Regions from separate parts of the Homo sapiens genome. Here region 2 is linked to region 1. Evidence: fine-mapped expression QTL. A gene starts in region 1. The other region holds a variant in brackets. All regions are shown on one strand. Distances are between the middles of the regions.

What was found. PIP is the estimated chance that this variant, and not a neighbour inherited with it, causes the effect.
Region 2: its variant is fine-mapped to the expression of SLC35D3 in whole blood (INTERVAL, PIP above 0.99).

Annotation. Positions count from the first base shown.
Region 1 is chr6:136,915,152-136,926,818 of GRCh38, forward strand. SLC35D3 (solute carrier family 35 member D3) reads left to right here and starts at 7,150. Exons shown (of 2, transcript NM_001008783.3): 1 at 7,150-7,716; 2 at 8,734-10,509. The coding sequence starts at 7,278. The coding sequence ends at 9,545. RefSeq lists an enhancer at 6,172-6,678.
Region 2 is chr6:136,951,240-136,962,906 of GRCh38, forward strand. No RefSeq gene overlaps it. Among named protein-coding and RNA genes, the nearest start is that of SLC35D3, 35 kb to the left of the region's middle. RefSeq lists enhancers at 5,319-5,887, 7,024-7,590 and a silencer at 6,052-6,346. The variant A/AGTGGGCT (reference allele first, on the strand shown) is at 6,061.

The DNA.
Region 1 (11,667 bases):
TAGAGTTGTCACACTGATGAGTTTGACAGCCTTTTTTCTTGCTGCTTGCCTCTATATGAACTAATGGCATTACACCAAGGTGTGGTCAGTAAAAGTGGGTCTACAATGGGTGTTCTCTGTATCAGCAGAATTTGTGATAGGCCCTAAAAGTATCCAACCCAAAGTAGTCAGGCATGGTGACGTGTGCCTGTAGTCCCAGATACTCAGGAGGCTAAGGCAGGAGGATTGCTTGATCCTGGGAAGTTGAGGCTGCAGTGACCCAGACTAAGGCATTCCAGCCTAGGTGACAGACCTTGTCTCAGAAAATATCTAACCCAGATAATATTTACAATGAAATGAAATTATTTCCTTTCCTTCTAGAATGCAAGAGATTTTTATTAACAAAACGTTCTATCACGTATCTTTCGAAACAAAGACTTGTAATTTAAAAACTAACCTCTCCCTTGATTTATTCTTTTCCCTCTATTCCAGGGATGTTAGAGATATTCAGATCATTGGCTTCATAATATATAACTCAGGTTCTTGGAGTCTATCAATATGAGAGTGGGTGAATGCTTATCCAGTTGGTTCCCTGGAACTAGAATTGGAAAACTCTGAGGAGCAGACCTGGATTCTCTCCTGAAAGACAATGTGCAAGATTTTTGAATCCTTGGTAGCTCACAAGCTAAGCAGCATTTGGACTTCAGAGGATGACCAGTCATTCTTTCCGGGTTGGGAAATCAGCATTTGTCTCCTGGCTGCTGAGCTCTTAGCTTTCATCTTGTCTGCCTCCCCACAAGCTCCTCCTACACCTGCAGGGAACTCAGTTACTGATTGTGGTCAGGGCACCGTGTAAGATGCTTTATATATGTTATCACTTTTAATCTCTATAACATCCCTGCAAGGTAGCCCTCCTTATTTTCAGGACAAGGAAGCCAACGTTCTCAGGAGTCATAATAGCGAAAAAATAATGAAACGAATTTGAAATCTGGAATGATTGAATCCAAACCCATGGTCCTGCCACATAGCCTCCTTTTCTTAGGAATAACAGAAATTAGCACACTGAGAAATAGTTAAGATGTAGAACTCTCTGGCTGTACCTGATTATTCCTGAGAGAACTGACAGAATTGAGTTTCCAAGTCTCAAGAGCTAAGCTGAACCTTAGTCTGGAGTGACCCTACCAAGGTCCATCACACCCAGGGAGATCCAGGCTGAGAGTCAGCTATCCTTTCTGCCTTTGGCACTTCTTAACTGTGTATCTTAGCAATAATTTGGCTCTTCCAAAAATGAACTCGAATTTTTTACTTAACAGGCTTTTCCTTGTATATGCTGATCCACTTAATTGTTTTTTACTTTCATGTTAATAATATTCTCAAATCTGTACACCTACCTTCCCCACCTGGGTTTCCCACAAGCCTTTGCATTCATTTTGTTCCAACCAAACTCACTTGCCTACTAACCCAGCTTTTACTCCTACACATGCCTTTTCATTTGTTGTCAAAAGTCAAGCTGTTAACAAAAGATCCATTTGGGTCAAGCTAAAGACCTAAACACCATCCTTGGTCCTTCCCTTATTCCCACTTCTCCACACACATCAAATGAGATCCTTTTTACCCCCTCATCACTGCTCCCTTATATCTCTTCCCCTCAATCCAACCACCATTGCCCCAGTTCAAGCCATCATTAGCTTTTCTCTGGACAATTGCAGCAGCTTCCTAAATGGTGTGTCTGTTTCCAGTTCTGTGTCCTCAGAGCCATCCTCCTCAACACAGCTGCCGGAGACGGATCTCAAATGCAATCTGATTACATCAATTTCAGTATAAAACCTTTCTCTGCTTATAGGATTACCTATGGGGAAAAATTCAAGCTTACTAACCAAGCAGCCAGGGTCCTCTGGGGATAGCCCTTGCCTCTGTCTGCAGCACCGCTTCTCTTCACACAAAACCAGTGTGCTCACAAATTCTTCATGTAAGTGATGCAAGTTTTCAGCTGGTCCATGTGCCTGGACTGCCCTGCTCTTGGCTTGGTAAGTTCTTACCCATAATTTAAAAGTCACATTAGGCTGGGCGTGGTGGCTCAAGCCTATAATCCCAGCGCTTTAGGAGGCCAAGGTGGGTGGATCACCTGAGGCCAGCCTGGCCAACATGGTGAAACCCCGTCACTACTAAAACTACAAAATATTAGCCAGGCATGGTGGCGAGTGCTTGTAATTCCAGCTACTTGGGAGGCTGAGGCAGGAGAATTGCTTTAACCCAGGAGGCGGAGGCTGCAGTGAGCTGAGATTGCACCATTGCACTCCATCCTGGGTAACAAGAGGGAAACTCCATCTCAAGAAATAATAATAATAAATAAAAATAAATAAAAATCCCATTAAATAACTAAAGAATAAGATTGACAACATACAAAAATTAAAATTGCAAAACACATCACTAGCAAAGCTAAAAGAGGACATAACAAAAGGATATACTGGCAACTTATATAGAATGGGTGGTTAATAGCCAAACTTTACAAAGGGCTCTTAAAAATCACTAAGAAGGCTGCGCATGGTGGCTCACGCCTGTGATCCCAGCACTTTGGGAGGCCGAGGCAGGTGGATCACCTGAATTTAGGACTCCGAGACCAGCCTGGCCAACATGGTGAAACCCCGTCTCTACTAAAAATATAAAAAATTAGCTGAAGGTGGTGGTGCACGCCTGTAGTCCCAGCTACTCAGGAGGCCTAGACAGGAGAATCGCTTGAACTCTGGAGGCAGAGGTTGCAGTGAGCTGAGATCGAGACATTGCACTCCAGCCTGGGCAACAAGAGCGAAATTCCGTCTCAAAAAAAAAAAAAAAATCACTAAGAAGACAACCAGACAAAAATTGGACAAGGATATCAATAAATAATTCACAGAAGTGGAGAGACAAATGTTTACTACATTTCAAAAAGTTTCAGTCAGACTGTCTCAATGATAAATGCAAATTAAAAATGAGATCCCTTTTTATTTTTGCTTGTCAGTTTGGCAAACATTAAAAATATTGATAATATCTAGTATTGGTTAAAGTGAGAATACTGTTATATGCTTTGTTAGAAGGCAATTTGGTAACAAATCAAGATTTTATTTTATTTTATTTTATGTTATTATTTTTGAGATGGAGTCTCACTCTTTTACCCAGGCTGGAGTGCAGCCGCATGATCTCGGCTCACAGCAACCTCCACCTCCCGGTTTCAGTGATTCTGCTGCCTCAGCCTCCAGAGCAGTTGAGATTACAGGCACGTGCCACCATACCTGGCTAATTTTTGTATTTTTAGTAGAGACAGGGTTTCACCATGTTGATCAGGCTGGTCTTGAACTCCTGACCTCAAGTGATCTACCTGGCTTGGCCTCCTAAAGTGCTGGGATTACAGGCATGAGCCACCGTACCCGGCCAAAATTTTAAATTACCCTTTGACCCAGCAATTCCACTTCTAGGATTCCCTCTCTCCCCCTTTCCCAAAATACCTGTAGAAGTATGGCTATGTCCAAGGGTATTCATTACATCGTTTGCTAAAACCCAAATGCCTGTCAACAGAAAGGTTATACTGTAGAACAGTTATTGAAAAGAATAAGTCATTTGAAAAAATATGCTATTTCTATGTAAAAAATCACTCCAAAACTTAGTAGTTTTAAACAACACACATTTATCATCTCACAGTTTCTATGGTCAGGAATCCAGAAACAACTGAGTTGTTTGAGCTCAGGTTTTCTCATGACATCACAGCTATTCACATGGTTATCAGGCCTCAATTACTCAACCACATGGGATTTTCCATAGGCAGAATGTCCCTACAATGTGGCATTCGGCTTCCCCAGACTCAATGATACAAGAGAAAAAAGGACATACAAGATGGAAGTCTCAGTATAACCTAAAGTCAGGAGTGACCGTCATCACTTCTGCCAGGTTCTGTTAGCTACACAGACCAACCCTGGTACAGCGTGGGAGGAGTTAACATAAGGGTGTGAATACCAGGAAGCGGGTATCACTGGAGACTATCTAGAAGGCTAATTACCATAATACGCTTTTTAAAGTAGGAAATTATAGACAAATATATATGATATCCTAGTTTTGTTATTTTTTTAAAGGAGGAGTTTGCGTGTGTATAAACATACATACAAAAAAGACTGAAAGTTTCCACACTGAACACAGCAAGCTCTGTGTAGTAAGGTTGGGGATGGTGAACACTGAAGAGAGCGCGTTTACTTAATTATAAATTTGTTTTTCTTTTATGTACCACAATGAGCCTGTGTTACTTTTATAATTAGAAATAATGAAGTAAGTTTTCAAAGACACTGTAATTCCTTCTCCAGGAAGCTTTGTCTGCTACTGCTGTCAAGCTGATGTACTTGCCCTCCTGGCGCTCCCCCCTTTTCTGCCACACAATCCCACTGTTGCTAAGGATGAAGGCGCTGTGTTCATCTTTAAGTCCTCTGTGGCTAACAGAATACTTAGCACAAAATACTTGTACTATATGTTTGTTGAATGAATGGATAAACTAAAGGATTTATTTAATGTCATTAATATTTATTAAGTAGCTCCAAAGGTGATGTGCTTGAGTCTAGACCCTTGGTACCCTGATACCAATAGGTCAAATAGCTATTTAACCTTTAGATCTACATTTTTATTCATCTAGATCATTTAACCTCGCTAAACATGGTATTCTTAATTTTTCACAATTTTTAAAAGGAGCTCATCTAGTATCTGGTTTTGTGGGAGATGGGGGTTAAGGTTTTTTTCTTTCCAAAAGAATTGCATGCAACAAAGTGGAGAAAATGTGCGGTTTTATGCCTCTGTAGGTTTCAAATATTAAGCTAAATTGTCTTGCATAAATGAGAAGAGTAAGATAGCTGAATCAGCCCCAAATCTTTTACCTAATGTTAGTATCACAAATGGATGCAATTATAATTGCGGGCAGAAATGAATCATTCCAAAAGTAGGTTTGTGCAGCCACTTCTTTATATTAATAATATGCACTTAGGATGGCTTAAAGCAGCCATGCTTTTATTGGGATAGTCTCTAGAAGCAGAAATCTGTTATTTGCTGATATCTGTAAAAAGTTAATTTTCAGAGTTTTGAATCAATATATTTTGACTATACCACACACATACACATAATTTGAACTGGTGCTTCAGACTTCATTATTTCCTAAATAACATTAACTCTACAAAAACAGAGTCACTTAAACAGCCAATAGTGTGTAACCACAAGTTTTAGCAACAAAAACCAAGGGCTCCCCAGAGAACCGGAAGCACGTGTTTCAGTATAATGCTTTCCAGCTATTCCTGGAAAGTTGGCACCCTGGGCCATTCACAAACTTTTTTTGAGTGCCCACCTGTCGGGAGCAGGGACGTGGCCCTCCTAGGCACCGGGCACATAAGCTGGTGGACTGGTTGACCCCGAGCTCTCTAGAGCTCACCAAAGTGAGCATCCAGAGCCCCAAATGCTGGCCCAAATGAAGGGCTGCTGTGATGCTGCTGATCCCTGCTGTAATTTTTTTTTCTTCCTCTGTTGCGGTAAATCACGACTTCAGCACTTTGGCTGAAGTGTCGCGTTCAGCACAGAGGTGGAAGTAAGAGGCAGAAAACAGAAGAACCACGAGAGAAATGGATCCTGTCTATTAAGGCAACGTGATGCAGCGCTAAAAGGTTAGGAGGTTACGATTCCCGGGGCTAAGAGAAATAAACTGCTGGTGGTGAACGAAAGGGGTGCTGGAGCGCAGCGATCTCGAACCTTTCCCTTATAGCCAAACCCTGGCCAAGGCCACAAATTTCAAATCGCCTGAAAACCAAACTGTCTGGCGCTTAACGGTTACCTCGGCTGAGCGAAACCCTTGGCTGCTGCTGATTTAACTACAGGTCCGCGCGAGTTACTTTCCAGGGAACTGAATTCAGAACAAAGAGTTACCGAAGCCTTACTCCCTCTCCAAAATTAGAATTCCCTTTTTCTCTTAGTCATATAGGAAACACACAGTTCACAAGTCCTGTGGTGCAAAGGTGTGAACCCTGGCCCAGGGAGGTGGTGACTCTCCCCGCCCTCCGCCTGCCGGTTGTCCTGCTTCCGAAAGCAACCCACGACGGTCCCGCAGGGTGAGGGTTCCCTGGGATCAGTTCCCTGGGATCCGGAGAACGCCACGCGGAGTCTCCCTGCAGGGTGAGGGGCCCCGGGTTCCCGCCCCCTCCCCCTCTACTCTCCCATTCTGCGAGCGCAGCCAGCCTCCCCTCCCACGCTTCGGGAAGCGTCGCCCCCGAGCTCCTCGGTTCCTGGTGGTGGCTACTCGTGTTAGTGACTTCGTTTCTGCGCGTTTGCTTATTTTCATCTTTGCCTCAGTTCGAATGTGTCCCCGCCACCAGGCCCCGCTGCTGGGCGAGACCACTGAACCCCCTGAAAGCTTCCCCGGAGCCGCGCGCATAATCCCGGGACCCTCTCTGGAAGGCGTGCGGAGAGCGGTGCGCGTGGCCTGGCACCGGAAGGAGCCAGCTTCCGGGCTCCGAGGCACCCCCTGGACAGCGCCCCGGGCCGCGGGTTCCTCCTCCGATGCCCGGGCGTCGTCGCCGGGATCGGGAGCTTCGGGGGCCCGCCGGCACCGACGGTTTTCGCTTCCCTGGCGGGCAGCTGGACGAGGTCCCGCCGCTGCACCGGGAGGGACAGTGGGTGGAAAAAGCCGCTGCAGCGCCGGGGCGAGGGGGCTGGGGGCGCCGTCACTTGTTGCGACCAATAAACGGCGCTCGATCCTGATGCGCTGTTTCTAAAATCTTTAGCTGTGTCCCGATCCCTCCAACCCAAGCCCCTCGGCCAGGAGGAAGGGGCAAGCGAGAGCCGCTGGCTCTGTGGGGGGAGAGGGGCGCCGCGCCCCAAGAGCCCCCGTCCCGCCCTGCGGCAGCCGCCCCGGGGCGCCCAGCCGCCCGCTTCCCTCCGCAGAGCGTCTTCCCTGACGGTGAAACCGCGCGGGACACAACCCACCGCGGCTCATCACCCACTTACAAATAGCTGTCGCTAGGATTCCCGCCACTCCTCTCAGACCGGCCCCCCCGCCACCTCTGCCACTTTTCGGAGTCCCCCGCCCTCGTCACTGCCTCCCCGGAGCTGCGGGGCAGTCGGACGCAGAGCTGCCTAACCGCAAGAACGCCTGGCCGGAGCTGCCCTCTGCAGCCGAGCCGGCGCCCCCTGCCCTTCGCCGCCGCGCTGGGCGGGCGCCCCCGCCGCCCTCACTCCGCTGCTCCCGGCTCCTCGCGCGCAGGTCGCGGAGCTCCGCCACCGCTGGGTGCGGCGAGGCCGGCGCGATGCGGCAGCTGTGCCGGGGCCGCGTGCTGGGCATCTCGGTGGCCATCGCGCACGGGGTCTTCTCGGGCTCCCTCAACATCTTGCTCAAGTTCCTCATCAGCCGCTACCAGTTCTCCTTCCTGACCCTGGTGCAGTGCCTGACCAGCTCCACCGCGGCGCTGAGCCTGGAGCTGCTGCGGCGCCTCGGGCTCATCGCCGTGCCCCCCTTCGGTCTGAGCCTGGCGCGCTCCTTCGCGGGGGTCGCGGTGCTCTCCACGCTGCAGTCCAGCCTCACGCTCTGGTCCCTGCGCGGCCTCAGCCTGCCCATGTACGTGGTCTTCAAGCGCTGCCTGCCCCTGGTCACCATGCTCATCGGCGTCCTGGTGCTCAAGAACGGCGCGCCCTCGCCAGGGGTGCTGGCGGCGGTGCTCATCACCACCTGCGGCGCCGCCCTGGCAGGTGAGCGGGCCCCCGCGCCGACCCCCAGCCGACCCCACCCACCCCGCTCCGTCGGGCAGAGACCGCGGGGATCACTGAGTTCAACGACCTCACTTCCAGATGGGGAGACTGAGGCAGAGAGAGCCGGAGAGCTTTGAGAGTGGTCGCTCAGCTCGCAAAAGGGACTTCCGAGACCCAGAGAGCTCCCCAGCGCCCCACCAAGTCCCCCTGCCCCCTAATGTCCTGGCTTCCGACCCTCGCCCATGCTTCACCCGGCATCGCCCTTCCTGTCGCCCCCTCTCCTGGTCTTCCCCTGTCACCCCATTCTCCGGGAGAGGTGGGAGGGCCGCCTGAGCCTGGGAGCTGGAGTCCTCCAAGCCTGGACCAAGCCGGAAGGAGGGGGCCGTGAACTTCCTTGGGTCACGAGGGGCTGGAATGGAGGTGGGGGATGGGGGCGAAGCTGAGGGTTCCCGGGGCTACTGCGGGGTGTCTCGTGCTGCGCAGGGGGCTGCGGCCCTGGGGCAGACGACCCAGGTGCTGAGCGAGACGAGAGCCTGGGCAGGGGGAAGCTTCACTGGGGGCCAGAACAGGCGTTCTCCCCCGCGCCTGGCCCGCTCCGGGTTGCAGGCCACTGGCTGGGGCTCCCTCTCCCTTTGGTGCCCCACGGGGCAGGGGCTCCGGGGTGCAGGTACCACGCGCCCAAGTGACCTCGGTGCCAGCTCGGGGAAGCCACAGCACCTGCCCCGAGGGCATCTGCGCTCTCCGGGGCCTTTGTCTTGGACAGAGGAAGATGGAGTGACCCGGGGATATGGCGGGAAGGCGCTCTGAGCACTGAGTTTGGCTGTCGCATTTGACACGGGTGGCCGAGGGACGGCGGGCGTCTGTCACTCAGGAATCCGGTGGGCAGAGCTGGGGCGCGAACCCAGTCTCCTTTCCTACCCGACGCGTTTTCCCCGTGGGTCCCCGCCCACGCCAACCTGCTGTCTTCTCTCTTTTTCCTTCCCGCCCGGGCTCGGCCGTCCTCCTCGTGCGCCGCAGGAGCCGGCGACCTGACGGGCGACCCCATCGGGTACGTCACGGGAGTGCTGGCGGTGCTGGTGCACGCTGCCTACCTGGTGCTCATCCAGAAGGCCAGCGCAGACACCGAGCACGGGCCGCTCACCGCGCAGTACGTCATCGCCGTCTCTGCCACCCCGCTGCTGGTCATCTGCTCCTTCGCCAGCACCGACTCCATCCACGCCTGGACCTTCCCGGGCTGGAAGGACCCGGCCATGGTCTGCATCTTCGTGGCCTGCATCCTGATCGGCTGCGCCATGAACTTCACCACGCTGCACTGCACCTACATCAATTCGGCCGTGACCACCAGCTTCGTGGGTGTGGTGAAGAGCATCGCCACCATCACGGTGGGCATGGTGGCCTTCAGCGACGTGGAGCCCACCTCTCTGTTCATTGCCGGCGTGGTGGTGAACACCCTGGGCTCTATCATTTACTGTGTGGCCAAGTTCATGGAGACCAGAAAGCAAAGCAACTACGAGGACCTGGAGGCCCAGCCTCGGGGAGAGGAGGCGCAGCTAAGTGGAGACCAGCTGCCGTTCGTGATGGAGGAGCTGCCCGGGGAGGGAGGAAATGGCCGGTCAGAAGGTGGGGAGGCAGCAGGTGGCCCCGCTCAGGAGAGCAGGCAAGAGGTCAGGGGCAGCCCCCGAGGAGTCCCGCTGGTGGCTGGGAGCTCTGAAGAAGGGAGCAGGAGGTCGTTAAAAGATGCTTACCTCGAGGTATGGAGGTTGGTTAGGGGAACCAGGTATATGAAGAAGGATTATTTGATAGAAAACGAGGAGTTACCCAGTCCTTGAGAAGGAGGTGCATGTACGTACCTATGTGCATACACTTATTTTATATGTTAGAAATGACGTGTTTTAATGAGAGGCCTCCCCGTTTTATTCTTTGAGGAGTGGGGAAGGGAAGAAAAGAAAGAAGCTGAAAGGTACTGACACAGAGCAACAAAATTAGCACCTGTGTGAATTATTTAGTGTGACTTCACCTGAGGCATCACAGAGACAAAAGAATGTGAAGCTACTTAACAAAGTAAGGCAACGTTTCTGCTTCAGACTCCTGGCACATTTACTTTTTGTCATTATAACCATAACTAAATATCTGCATGTACCAAGAGTCCCTAAGCCACCCCCTCCAAAGATGGAGTGTAGAAATGATGACAGCACTTAGTAAGTTCAAAGATGACATTCAGGGATGCATTTTTTGATGATAGAACTACAGTTTTTATCGCCAGCTGGGCAAAGAGTATATTGCTGAAATGATATATAAATATATTGAATTGATGTTTACTGTTTATAGTCATCTGAAATATCATATTTACTCTGATTCTACTCACTTGTTTTTTAAAAATAAGTGTCCTATTATTGTATTATATATTGATAGAAACTGTTAAAGCTATTTTGAAAATATGAGTTCTTAGCTTTAATCATGAAGTCTGAAGTTTGCTTTCAGTAATTATTTTAAAAGTTGTTTTGGTTCATTGCTTTATAATATTTATTATTGAATGCCAAACCTGTTCTTTTTTTTACTGTGTCCAATATTCTTTCAAGCAAATGCAATGGCTGGAATATAATTCAGAATTAACTGAAACCCAGCCAGAAGAGGGACCACCTGTAAAGCAAGTCCTTTCAAGTTTCACTGCACATCCCAAACCATGTTACAAAAAGAGCAACTGCTATATTCACATTATGATATTTTTCTATCTTAAATTTGTCAAAATAAAGTATGAGTCTAACTATTAAAGGATACATTGTTAGAAATTTATTTTAGACACATGTTCTATTGTTGCTGTATAGTTGTTTGTGTTTGCCTCCAATGTGTGGTCATAGTATCCGAGTGTAGGGGCCGCACCATTGGAAACTTCCTAAATTAACAAAGCTGTTTGGTTTGAAATAACAACAAAAACAGAAATGCATCTTCCAGTGAAGGAAGCTGTTAATGGTGTGGTGCAATGGCTCATGCCTGTAACCCAGCACTTTGGGAGGCCAAGGCAAGCAAATGACTTGAGCTCAGGAGTTCAAGCAAGCCTGAGCAACGTAGCAAAACCCCATCTCTGCAAAAAATACCAAAAATTAGCCAAGAATTTTGGTGTGCACCTGTAGTCCCAGCTACTCAGGAGGCTGTGGTAGGATGATCACCTGAGCCGGGGAAGTCAAGGCTGCAGTGAGTTCTGATTGTGTCACTACACTACAGCCTGGGCAACAGAGCGAGACCCCGTCTCAAAAACAAACAAACAGGGCATGGTGGCACGCGCCTGTAGTCCCAGCTACTCGGGAGGCTGAGGCAGGAGAATCACTTGAACCTGGGAGGTGGAGGTTGCAGTGAGCCGAGATCGCGCCATTGCTCTACAGCCTGGTAACAGGACAAACAAATAAACAGAAAATGATAAAACACTCCATCGCACTGAGGTACGAAAGCCATCCACACCAGATTTCAGTTAACATGGAGTCTGAGAAGTAATAAATGGTCATGTCCACCAAGGAGGAAGCCTTCTGTGAGCTCTAGGCAGGAGAGATACTTTGAGAGTGAGGGGGCACTGAGATCTGCCAGCATGTTGCTGAGATTCTCAGATAGTAGCATCTTATATTTTTCTTTCTTTTCTAAAAATCAAATCAAAGCAAAAAGCAGAAGCAAAAATGAAGTTTCAGCTCCATCAGTTTGGCTCCACAAGCAGCTGAGCAAGTGTAATTGTGGTTTGTGATTGGCCCTGGTTTGCTGGTTTCCACAGGCAATTGACTATTTCCAGAGGTGCCTCCACAAGCCATTTAAGATGCAGGAGACCTCACATACTGCAGTTAGAAATGGTTTGCCAGGGTTATGATGACTTCTTCAAAAATAAGTGTTAATTTTAATGCTAACATGCCAAAGGGCAACATCGCGTTGCAACTATATAAAGCTGAGAATTAATGAAAAGCAGCAAAG
Region 2 (11,667 bases), 36 kb after region 1:
AGAGTCTCACTCTGTCACCCAGGCTGGAGTGCAGTGGCATGATCATGGCTCACTACAGCCTTGGCCTCCCGGACTCAGGCCATCCTCCCATCTCAGACTCCCGAGTAGCCAGGACTATAGGTGTGCTCTACCACGCTTGGCTAATTTTTTGTATTTTCTGTGGAGATGGGGTTTCACCATGTTGCCTTGGCTTGTCTGGAACTCCTGGACTTGAGCAATCCATTTTCCTTGGCCTCCCAAAGTGCTAGCATGAGCCACCACATCCAGCTGCAGTTTTAATTTATTAAAAAGGACACCTCCTTCACTCCATCTTAACAGCAGGTTTTTTTTTTTTCTGTTGTTGTTTCCGCTACATCCTTAGCACCTAAAACAGTTGCTTGACATAGTCTAAGCACTCAAAAATATTTGCTAATGGATATTTGAATGAGTAAAATTCCCTTACACAGCAGGGTTGAGTGAACCCTTGGTATCTCTGTGACTCCGGACATATAAAACCAAACAACAAACAAACAAATGAGAATACCAGTTTTGATGTTGTGAAGCTAGAAAAGAGAAAATAAAGAGCCAAGAGAAGAAATTAAATATATCCTTTCAATTTTAAGGTAATTGCAGGCAAGCATTGGGTTTCCTCAGCTCTGCATCCTGTAGGTTGCCCTGCCTGATCCACACTAAGTGTTTGGTAACTGGAAGCTTCAGGGTGGGTACAGATTCTATAGGCAGATACTAATAGTTGGGCAGGAAAGGAGATTATTAAATCTTCACTAGGCTTTTCACAGAATTATTCACTGAACCCACATGGAGGCTAACCCTGTCTACACATGTTAGTTATTTCCATAATAGTGCCTTTTTGGAGACCATGTTGTTAGGTTATATTGTACTATAATATAATTATGCTAAAGTATTATGCAGACTGAGTGCTTATAACCTATGTCTACGCTAATTGCAAAGGAAAGGCAAGGTTCCTGCCCTTTTCGAGTTTGCTTTGAAAGACAGGGATTAAAAAAAAAAAAAAAAGATAGGGATTTTCCCAAGCACAGAGAGGGCACATAGGAGTGTAAGCAGAAGACAGACAGGAGGAAAGGAGGAGAGCCCTGTTAAGGCTCAGAACGCATCCCAAAATACGGCACCTTGGCGATGGAGAAAATGACTGAAGCAAGGTCACTCTGGCTTCTGCCACCTTCTCCCGGGAGCATTGGTCATAGGGGATTCTCTGACCTACCTCGCCTGACACTGGGCCACAAAACCCTCATTCCAGAAGGGTCCTGCCCTACAACCGGACCAAGAAAAATCTAAACAAACAGGCCTTACTGGGATCCCTCCTTCAGTCTATTACCATGAGATCACACCCTTTTGTCCAATCACATTTCTACATGCTGTCAATTCCTCATCAAACCTAAGCATAAAACACACAGTGTCTCCTAGGTCATGGGGTCTTTACTTCTGAAGGCTCCTGTGTCACATAAAACTTAGGTTAAATGCAATTGGTTATGCTTTTATCTTGTTAATCTGTCCTTCGTTATGGGGGTGTCAGTCGAAAACCTCACGGTGGTGAAGAAAAGATGTATTACCTTTTATCCCCTACAGACTTAACCGGTCGGCCACTCTGGCTCTGTGTGTGTGTGTGTGTGTGTGTGTGAGAGAGAGAGAGAAAGAGAGAGAGAGAGAGAGAAATATTGCCTCTCCAAAGGCCTCCTAAAATCAACCTTTTTGGGAATGATAATCCATTAAGTCATCCAGTGATCATTGTCTCATTATGAACTGTTTATCAGACACTTCCTTGGTGTCAGAATAAAGAGCAACCACTTATTGACTGGCGACCACAGATGGGCACTTTGCCAAGTTCGCTGCATGCTCTCTAATTTAATCCTCTCTTGCAACTCTGGACAATAGCATTATTTCCCCCATTTTATTAAGGGGATCACTGAGGTTCACAGGAGCTAAATAATCTACTGAGATCACTCAGTAATAAGTGGAAGAGACTGGGGTGAGGCAAGAGGGGCACCTAGAGTGCAACACTTAGGGAGGCAAACTCTCTGATCTGTGCATGTGTGTGCAGGGTTGATGTGAGCCTGAACCGGAGATGAGTGTCTCAAGATTTGCACCCTTGGTCCTTGCTTGCCTCACCTGGTCCTGGTCCTACGTCCTTCTGACTCAAAAGCCTGTGCTCCTAACTACTGCACCATAGCTGAAAGCAGAACCTTATTGATGGCAACGCTGGGGAGGGAAGAGGTGTGCACTGGAATGAGGTGGAGCAGTGGGCTTAAAATTTTTTGCTTGTGTGTCCCCAAAGAGGATTTTTAAATGCTATGTATTCTTTGAACATTTAAAAATTGATATTAAAAAAATTCAACTTAAATCTACACAATTGCAAAGGATGGTAATTTCCACTTTTGCTTTAAAATAACATTGTTAAATTATTTTTAATGTATTCAATGGAGGCTACGTAGCATAATGATAAGAAAGGCACAGGTAGACATGAGAGAGAAATTTTATACCCTATTCTTTTTCCTTAAACTCTTTGAAATCATATTTCAATTTCATTCTCCAATAGAATTTTATCCTAGTATTTTCTGTGCTTAAAAATGTTAAATATATTTCTGAAACAAAAATATGTATATAAATTGAAATAGATGTTCTATTTTCTTTGACCATAGGACTCCAAGTGTTTAAAGGTTTTCTTTTGGATTTAGTTATCATTACAATTGTTATTAGTACTCATAGGTCCTCAACATCATTATATTACAAGTATTAGTAGTTACTAAATATAAAGATACAATTCCATTAGAACCACATCTCTTAACAAGATAGGGCATTTAAAAAGTTATTTCATTGCAGGAGGAGCAGGATTAAAAAAGCAAAAAACAAAGTTATTTTATATATTCATGGATGAATATTACTTAGAAAAAGATAGGGTTCAGCTCCAATTCTCATAACATTTCTGACACAATAAAGAGAAGTATTCTGTGTCATGGGTCTTTTTGAACAATTAGTGTGCACTGGCCTTGAAATGTGCTTTCTCAGACAACATCTCATCGCCACTGGTATATTGCTAGTGCATTAGTGGACCAAATGATAGTAAAATCAGAAAGGCATAGGGTTACATTCCAATTCTCATCATATTTGTCATTTTTACATATGTAAGTGTTGAGAAACTTTGTTCACTAAAATAAGTAGTTGGAAATGAGAAGTGTTTTGTTGTAGGAAAGCCATTCACTTCTCCAAGTTATGTCCTAACAAAATCATATGGTGATATATTGTGAATTTTTTTGTTTGTTTGTTTGAGATGGAGTCTCACTCTTGTTGCCCAGGCTGGAGTGCAGTGTTGTGCTCTCGGCTCACTGCAACCTCCACCTCCCGGGTTCAAGCAATTCTCCTGCCTTAACCTCTTCAGTAGCTGGGACTAAGGCACCCACCACCACGCCCAGCTGATTTTTGTATTTTTAGTAGAGATGGGGTTTCACTGTGTTAGCCAGGATGGTCTCACTCTCCTGACCTCGTGATCCACCCGCCTTGGCCTCCCAAAGTGCTGGGATTACAGGCATGAGCCACCGAACCTAGCCAAAAATTTTTTAATGATTTATCAGCCCTTCCTCCAAATAGGTGGAAGCTACTTGACTTGGAAAAGGATTTGTTACCCAGTTGTTGGAGTCTTTTATGGTCTCAACACCAACACAAGGATTTCAGATTAATTTCATTTTGGGTACCTCAGAGGCTTTTAAGCCCTGAGGCATTCCATGGTGGCAAGTCCTGGTAGATGAGATGGGTGCCTTCCTTTTTATTCTTGTGAAGAAAGGGTGCCTGTGAAAGGGGAGATGGGAACAGAGAACCAGCAAGACACCTGAAACACACAGGCTCTTTCTCAGGAAGAATGGTTTTAGGCAGAAGCTCCTAAGGACGATGAGGATCTGGGAAGTGATTTCCATAATACGACATGTGCCTATTTTGAGGATCACCAATGTAGGGCATGATGGATGCATTAATGAAAAAGGTGGTAAGAACTCTTTTGAACGATAGGATGGGCAAGGATGGGAGTAGGGTGTAGAGAGGGCTGTGGGGGAAGAGGAAGGGAGTACCAGTCAAGTAGGGAAATAAGGGAGAACTGAAAGAGCACACAAGAGTTAATTCAGTTTTGACTGTGGCTGGCCCCTCTGTGTTATAAACTGACCATTGACTCACTCTCACCAGCACAACATTTAGAACCCAGTGTTTTTGTCTTGAGTTTTGTTTTGTCAATTAACACCAAAGCAGGCTAAATAATAATACATGTTTGGTTGTGAGACAGTGTGTTGGAGGGGCTGATTTTTATTCAGGGGTTTAATCAAGAAAGGAATTAAGATTAGAATTCAAGGTTTATAAATCAGGTGAAGATCAGAAGATAGGAAGGGGACAATTTGGAAAAAGGGGAGAGGACTTAAGATAAAGCCTGGGCACTTTGATTCTGTGTCCCCGGTTTCCATCATTAACATTGTTTTAGCTGCAAATGTTGCTTCCTCTTCCCAAATTAAATTAAACTGTCCTTAGAGCTGGAATAATGTAGTTCAGTTCTCTCTAAACTGGAGTATACTATCTCTCAGCACTTTCAAAATGGCTAAGGGTCTTTATTTTGTGTGTAACCTTATTTTGTGTGTAATACACATGAACATCTCGAGTGTCATTCAGAAACAGGCCATTTCTCGGATAAGTCTATTCATTTGCAAATTGACAGATCTCTATTAATAGCAAGAAATGTTTGCTATCAGGTTTACATTGTTACCAATGTAATTCAAAATCATCCTTGGTAAGATTAGGCTTTTTGCGTGGAAAATTAATTAAGTTAAAATTTAAAAGCCATCTTTGAATGAGACATGAGAAGTAAAACAACAAAATAAAAATTTAAAATCTTTGCATGAATTCAAAGTTCATGAAACTCTTAACTTATTTTGAGCACATAATTTTAAAATAAAAATATTTGAAAATTGGTTTTATATTTTTTAGCATAGCTTTTAACTATTCACTGGAATTGAGAAACTCACCTGCCTATTTGTAGAAATTCTGCTTTCTAAATATGGCTCCTAAGCATATATATGTAACTGATAGGTTTTTTTTTTTTGTTTCTTTGTTTTTTTAAACAGAGTCTCACTCTGTTTCAAAAAACAGTGACGTGATCTCAGGAGTGCAGTGATGTAATTTCAGCTCACTGCAACCTCCACCTCAGCCTCTCTAGTAGCTGGGACTACAGGCATGCGCCACCATGCCCGACTAATTTTTTTTTTTTTTTTTTTGTATTTTTAGTAGAGATGGGGTTTTGCCATGTTGTCCAGGCTGGTCTTGAACTCCTGGCCTCATGTGATCCACCCGCCTTGGCCTCCCAAAGTGCTGGGATTACAAGTGTGAGCCACTATGCCCGGCCTGTATCCCATTGTTAACATATATCTTTATGAAAGCAAAAGCAAATGTTATAGTCACACAATTATAGAATAATGTCATGTATATAATTTCTATTTAAATGTAAAGTCAAAAAAGTCCTCTGAGATGGAGCCTTCCCTTATGAAATGCTCTACCCTGCTCCTGGCTGATGGCAACCAGATCATATTTCAAACTGCTAATCAAGTTGTTAATTTATAAAATCGAGTAGATGGGAAAAGGTTTCTACTTTGGCTTTGACTTTAATTATGTTAACTTTTTCCTTTCTCTCCTAAAATACAACTTGTTAGCAAATGCCACCTAAATGGTACTTCCTTTGTGACTTCGCAGCTGTCATTGTTATGCATTCATCAGGCCGGAAGTGCTCTTCTGTGTATTTTTGGAAAGCTATTCATCTGTTTTAGCTAAACAAACAGAGCTGTTTAAGCTGTTAAAATACAGTACCATAGTTATTTGTTTTTGCATCTTCGAGTTGCATGTAAATGAAAGGTTCGGGCTAATTGGTTCTAGGAATAGTATCCAAAGCAGTTCTAGAGAATTTCTCCCGGTAATTAAGTGGAATGCACTCTGGGACTCTAGTCGGCCTCACACAGAAGGGCCTCTTGGCTTTCCTTGTGGCTGTTTGTGCTTATCTCAGCCAGCTCAGTGGTTGTGGGT[A/AGTGGGCT]GTGGGCTGTGGGCTGTGGGCTGGGGTGGTTAGGAGGGGAGGAAGAAAAAAGTTAATTACGGCCCAATGCAGGCCGACTGGAGCTCAAGGAGGAGGCACTGCAATGGAGAAAGAGGAGCTGGGGCAGGGCCGGCTGCATAGGCCTGCGACTAGTGCTGGCACACAGCCTCTGAGCCCAGAAGGGGGCCCCGCACTCCCAATGTCTGCAGCCACCGTCTTGGAATTCTGATTTATCTTTGAATACATGGTGTCTTTTAAGTGAAGTCCTAATGGGATGATGGAGCAGAAGCTGGGACCTTGGAGCCTCCCGCCACCTCCCTGCCTTTCCTGGCCCTGGCTGCAGGCTCCCCTTCCACCCCCCTGCCTTTCCTGGCCCTGGCTGCAGGCTCCCCTTCCACCCCCCCACCCACCCACCCAGTCCCAGGCTCTCCCCCACCATCCACCCACCCAGTCCCAGGCTCCCCCACCACCGCCCACCCAGCCCCAGGCTCCCTTCCCACCCACCCACCCAGTCCCAGACTCCCCCACCACCTACCCACCCACTCTCAGACTCCCCTACCACCTACCCATGCAGCCCCAGGCTCCCCTCCCACCCCCCACCCAGTCCCAGGCTCCCCCCGACCACCCAGTCCCGGGTTCCCCCACCATCCACCCACCCAGTTCCAGGTTCCCCCACTGCAACCACCCCCTGCCCCAGTGCAGGCCCTGGTGGTCTCATGCGCATGCTCACCCCCTGCCCCCCACGCCAACCCCTTGCTTCTGAGGATCTGCACTCACCTTGCAGTATTGTGCCGGTGGGCGTGTGGCATTACATAGCAAATTACAAGCACCAGGAAGGGGCAAGAGAGAAACCGTGAGGGGGAGAAAGAAAAATCCTTTCTCTTGGTTTTTGCAAAAGGGACCCCACATTGTCATTTTTCACTAAGCCCTGAAAAGTAAGTAGCAGTCAGGAGCCAATGCACTGGTTCACCACCAAAGCCGGCAACTCAAAAAGCCCAAAGGAAGGCAATCTTGCCAACAACCAGAACGCTCCTAAGAACCTGCAGGAGCTTGACATCCACAGGTGAAGTCAAAGTTTCTCCGGCCAGAGTAAGCATCTAGGCGATTAAGCAGCATCCAGGTGGGGGTGCCTGTGACACCTGGAGCCCCAGAGGGCTTGTTACAGTGCTCTTTTAGCTCTGGGCTCTAGCGCTTGGGCTTCAGCTCTTAAAAGCCATGAATAGAGTAAGGATGAACTACAGGGTGTGGGGATAGAATAAGGGACTTAGTTTTTCAGAGAAGTTAAATGATGTAGAGTTTAGACTCTGATGCCAGGTGGTCATGGTTCAAATCCCTTTCATCCATTAATACCATGACCTTGGCCAAGTCACTCAATTATTCTGAGCTGCCAGATAAGGATCTGTGGAATCATTTCTTGATGAGTCTGATATTTTGCTTCTTTCCCATCTTTTCAGTTATTAAAAATTAAATAAAGTTATTATTTAAAAAGTGGAAATACTTCAATTTAGTCATATTTCTATCTGGTTAGGTTACAATGCCTTATTTCCCTCTATTGATGTCAGTCATGCTTCTGGTGGTTGCACGACAATCCTAATATAAGTGAACATAGGTATAATCTTGGCATCGAGAATGCCATTTATATGCATGATAGGGACGGGGGCAGAGAAATTCTAGGCAGAAAAGTGTGGTCCCTGACGAAATCTCACCCTCAAGCCAAAAAGCCTGAAACCCGTGGTCCAAAGTGAGAACTTCTATCCCTGTTTTCCCATGTGAATGCTGCCTTTCCCTAAACTACCTATGGCCCACTCTGCCCCTATCCTGTGCATAGAAGACTCCAGACTCAGCCAACAGAGAGGAGAAGCAGCTGGGCGTTGGGGTCTAGGGCTGGAAGTTGGAGAGAAGCAGCTTGACTTCAGAGGGACAGCTTGAGCTTCAGAGAAGAATTTGGAGAAGAATCTGGCCAAAGACAGCTGGACTTCAGGGGAAGATTACCTATCCCCCATCCCCTTTTCAGCTCCCCTTTCCACTGAGAGGAGACGGCTGGACTTCAGGGGAAGATTACCTACCCCCCATCCCCTTTTCAGCTCCCATTTCCTCTGAGAGCCACTTTCCTTGGCAATAAAATCCCCTGCATTTACCATCCTTCAATTCGTTCATGCGACCTCATTTTTCCTGGATGCCAGACAAGAGCTTGGGAGCCACAAGTGTGGACATAAAAGGCTGTCACACTGGCCCTTTGCCCTCGCTGGTGGAGGGCAGTCGTCTCACACGACGAGGCAAAGGGCTCACTGAGCTGTTAACACTTAAGCCATCAGAGGACAGCAGAGCTAAGAGAGCACTGTAACACGCCCTCTGGGGCTCCAGGTGTCACAGGCACCCCCACCTGGATGTTGCCATGGGGCCCGCACAGAGCTTGCTCTTGCTGGTGCCGAAGCGGCTGGCCAGTTCCAGGCCTCGTGCACTCCAGTCCCCGCCTTGTTTGCTCGTGCACTCCCTCCTGTGAGGAGTGGAGAGCTGTGGGCTGAGTAAACGATGCACCCCTGTCTCGAGTCCCACAAAGGGGTCAGGCAAATATCCTGCCTCGTGTACACACACATATCATTTTTTTCTTTTTTGGGGGCGGGTACAGGTAAGGGAGGAGACCACCCCTCATATTGTCTTATGCCCAATTTCCGCCTCCAAAGAAAGAAGTAAAAACTAAAAGGCAGAAATGAAATCCACAGGCAGACAGCCCAGTGCCGCGCCCTGGGCCTGGTAGTTAAAGATCGACCCCTGACCTAACCGGTTATGTTATCTATAGATTCCAGACATTGTATGGAAAAGCACTGTGAAAATCCCTGTCCTGTTCTGTTCTGTTCTGATTACTGGTGCATGCAGTACCCCCTGCTTGCTCAATCCATCAGGACACTCTCACACGGACCCCCTTAGAGTTGTAAGCCCTTAAAATGGACAGGAATTGCTTAGTGAGGAGAGCTTGGCTTTTGAGATGCAAGTCTGCTGAAGTTCCCAGCCAAATAAAGCTCCTTCCTTCTTTAACCCAGTGTCAGAGGAGTTTTGTCTGCGGCTCGTCCTGCTACACAGGGTCTCGCTCTGTCACCCAGGCAGGAGTGCAGTGGCGGGATCAGGATTCACTGCAACCTCCATCTCCCAGGCTTAAGTGATACTCCCACCTCAGCCTCCCTAGAAGGAGTAGCTGGGACCACAGACGCATGCCACCATGCCCAGCTGATTTTTGTATTTTTTGTAGACTGGGTTTCACCATGTTGCTGAGGCTGGTCTTGAACTCCTGGGCTCAAGCGATCTGCCCACCCCAGCCTCCCAAAGTGCTAGGATTACAAGTGTGAGCCACTGTGCCCAGCCACATATAACTTTTATAGGGCAAAAAAATTCTCCATTACCAAGCTTATTAAAAATTGGGGGAAAATATTTCAACATCTGTATCAGACAAAAGGTTAATATAAATAATAAGGAAAAAATTATAATCGATAAGAAAAATTTCAAAACTCTATTAGAAAAAAAAACAGGAAAGGCAATTTGCAAAAGAATTACAAATGATTATTACCTAACAAAGAAATGTTCAACTATTAATCAATAGAAACAGATATTTGAAAAGCTTCTACTTCTCAGTCTGACAAAATTTTATCAGCATTGGCAAGGGTGTGGTGGAAGCAGATGCTCTTACATCCTGTTGGCTTGAGGCTTCCCGAAGGGCGCTTGGGCTTCAGCTCTTAAAAGTATTAGAAAGTGAATATTCTTTGATCTGGCATTTTACTTGTAGGTATTTATCCTGAAGAAATAAATAGACATAGATATACCTGTGTTTATCAGGAGTATGGCCACTGTGATTTATACTAGTGAAAATTGTTAACAGCCTAAATGCTCAACAATGGAGATTGGTTAAATATATAAATATATATTTATAAACATATAAATAATAAATACTATGATATAATACATATATATTTGTAGATATACGTATATGTATGCTATACATATATGTATAGCTGGACTATATGGATTACATGTATATAGGATTTTTAAATTATTAAAATAATTATATAAATGTATATTAAGGCTGGGTGCAGTGGCTCACACCTGTAATCCCAGCACTTTGGGAGGCCGAGGCAGGAGGATCACTTGGGGCCAGGAGTTCGAGACCAGCCTGGCCAACATGGCAAAACCTGTCTCTACTAAAAATACAAAAATTAGCCAGGTGTGGTGGTGCATGTCTGTAATCCCAGCTACTTGGGAGGCTGAGGCATGAGAATTGCTTGAATCTGGGAGGTGAAGGTGGCAGTGAGCCAAGATTGCGCTGCTGCACTGCAGCCTGGGTGGGACTATCTTAAAAAAAAAAAAAAGTATAGTAAGAACCTGGAAGGAACTTTACATTATACATTTTTAAGTGAAAAATAGCATGTGTGTATTTTGGAAAAGCAGAAAAGGTTTTAATATTAACCGTTCGTCTGATACAGATATTGAAATATTTTCCCCAGTTTTTAACAAGCACTGTAGTTTGGTGCATGGAATCAGAAGTCAGACTGCTTGGCTTTGGATCATGGCTCTGTCCCTTTCTGGTTCCACCTCTTAAAAGCTGTGTGACCATGAGTAAGTTACTGAACATATGAACAGGACAAGAACTCTGGACGTGTGGGGATGGAAGGTGGAACTGAGATTCGAGTCCCATTTGAGCGCAGAGCCTGTATTCTTAACTTCTGGGCTACATGGAGCCAAAATAAACAGTGGCAGAGAGAGAGAGAGAGAGAGAGAGATGCAGATAAATAAAGATAGTGAAGGGTATTGGATCGATTATGTTTTAAGTACTTTCAAGGCAAGATTTTACTTTGTCTTTGAATTCCCATCATTTAGTTCCACACCTGGTGCATAATAGACACTCATAAATGAATCATTGGGTAGGGTCATAGGCGTGATGCAGAGCAGAAATGCTTAGGTTCTAACAGTGGGGCCATGGGTTGGCCATTCAGATTTGTAACTAAAAGAAAGAAAGAAAGAAAGGGCCGGGTGCAGTGGCTCACGCCTATAACCCCAGCACTTTGGGAGGCTGAGGCAGGCAGATCACCTGAGGTCAGGGGTTTGAGACCCTCCTGGCCATCATGGTGAAACCCCATCTCTACTAAAAATACAAAAATTACCCGGGCATGGTAGCACACGCCTGTAATCCCAGCTTCTCAGGAGGCTGAGGCAGGAGAATTGCTTGAACCTGGGAGGTGGAGGTTGCAGTGAGCTGAAATTGTGCCACTCTACTCCAGCCTGGGGGACAGAGTGAGACTCCATCTTAAAAAAAACAAAGAAAGGAAAGACAAAAAAGAAAAGAATAGGGAATCTTCTAAAATGAAAAAGGGGCACTAAGAGAGAGTGTGGAATATGGTAGATGAAGGGATCAACTCCTTTCGGACCCACAACCTCTTCTTTTTAAGGCTGCTTGAACTATTTATTAGTCTGTAATTAGAGTCCCAAGCGTTTCCTTCTGTTTCCTAAAGGGTTGGAAAAATGCCCCGAGGGCTTGTCACCATAGGCCTTCCCCACTTCTAATCAGCCAGATGGCAGCTGCAGGAAGTGGCAGCTAAAGCAACAATCACAATGTGGTGT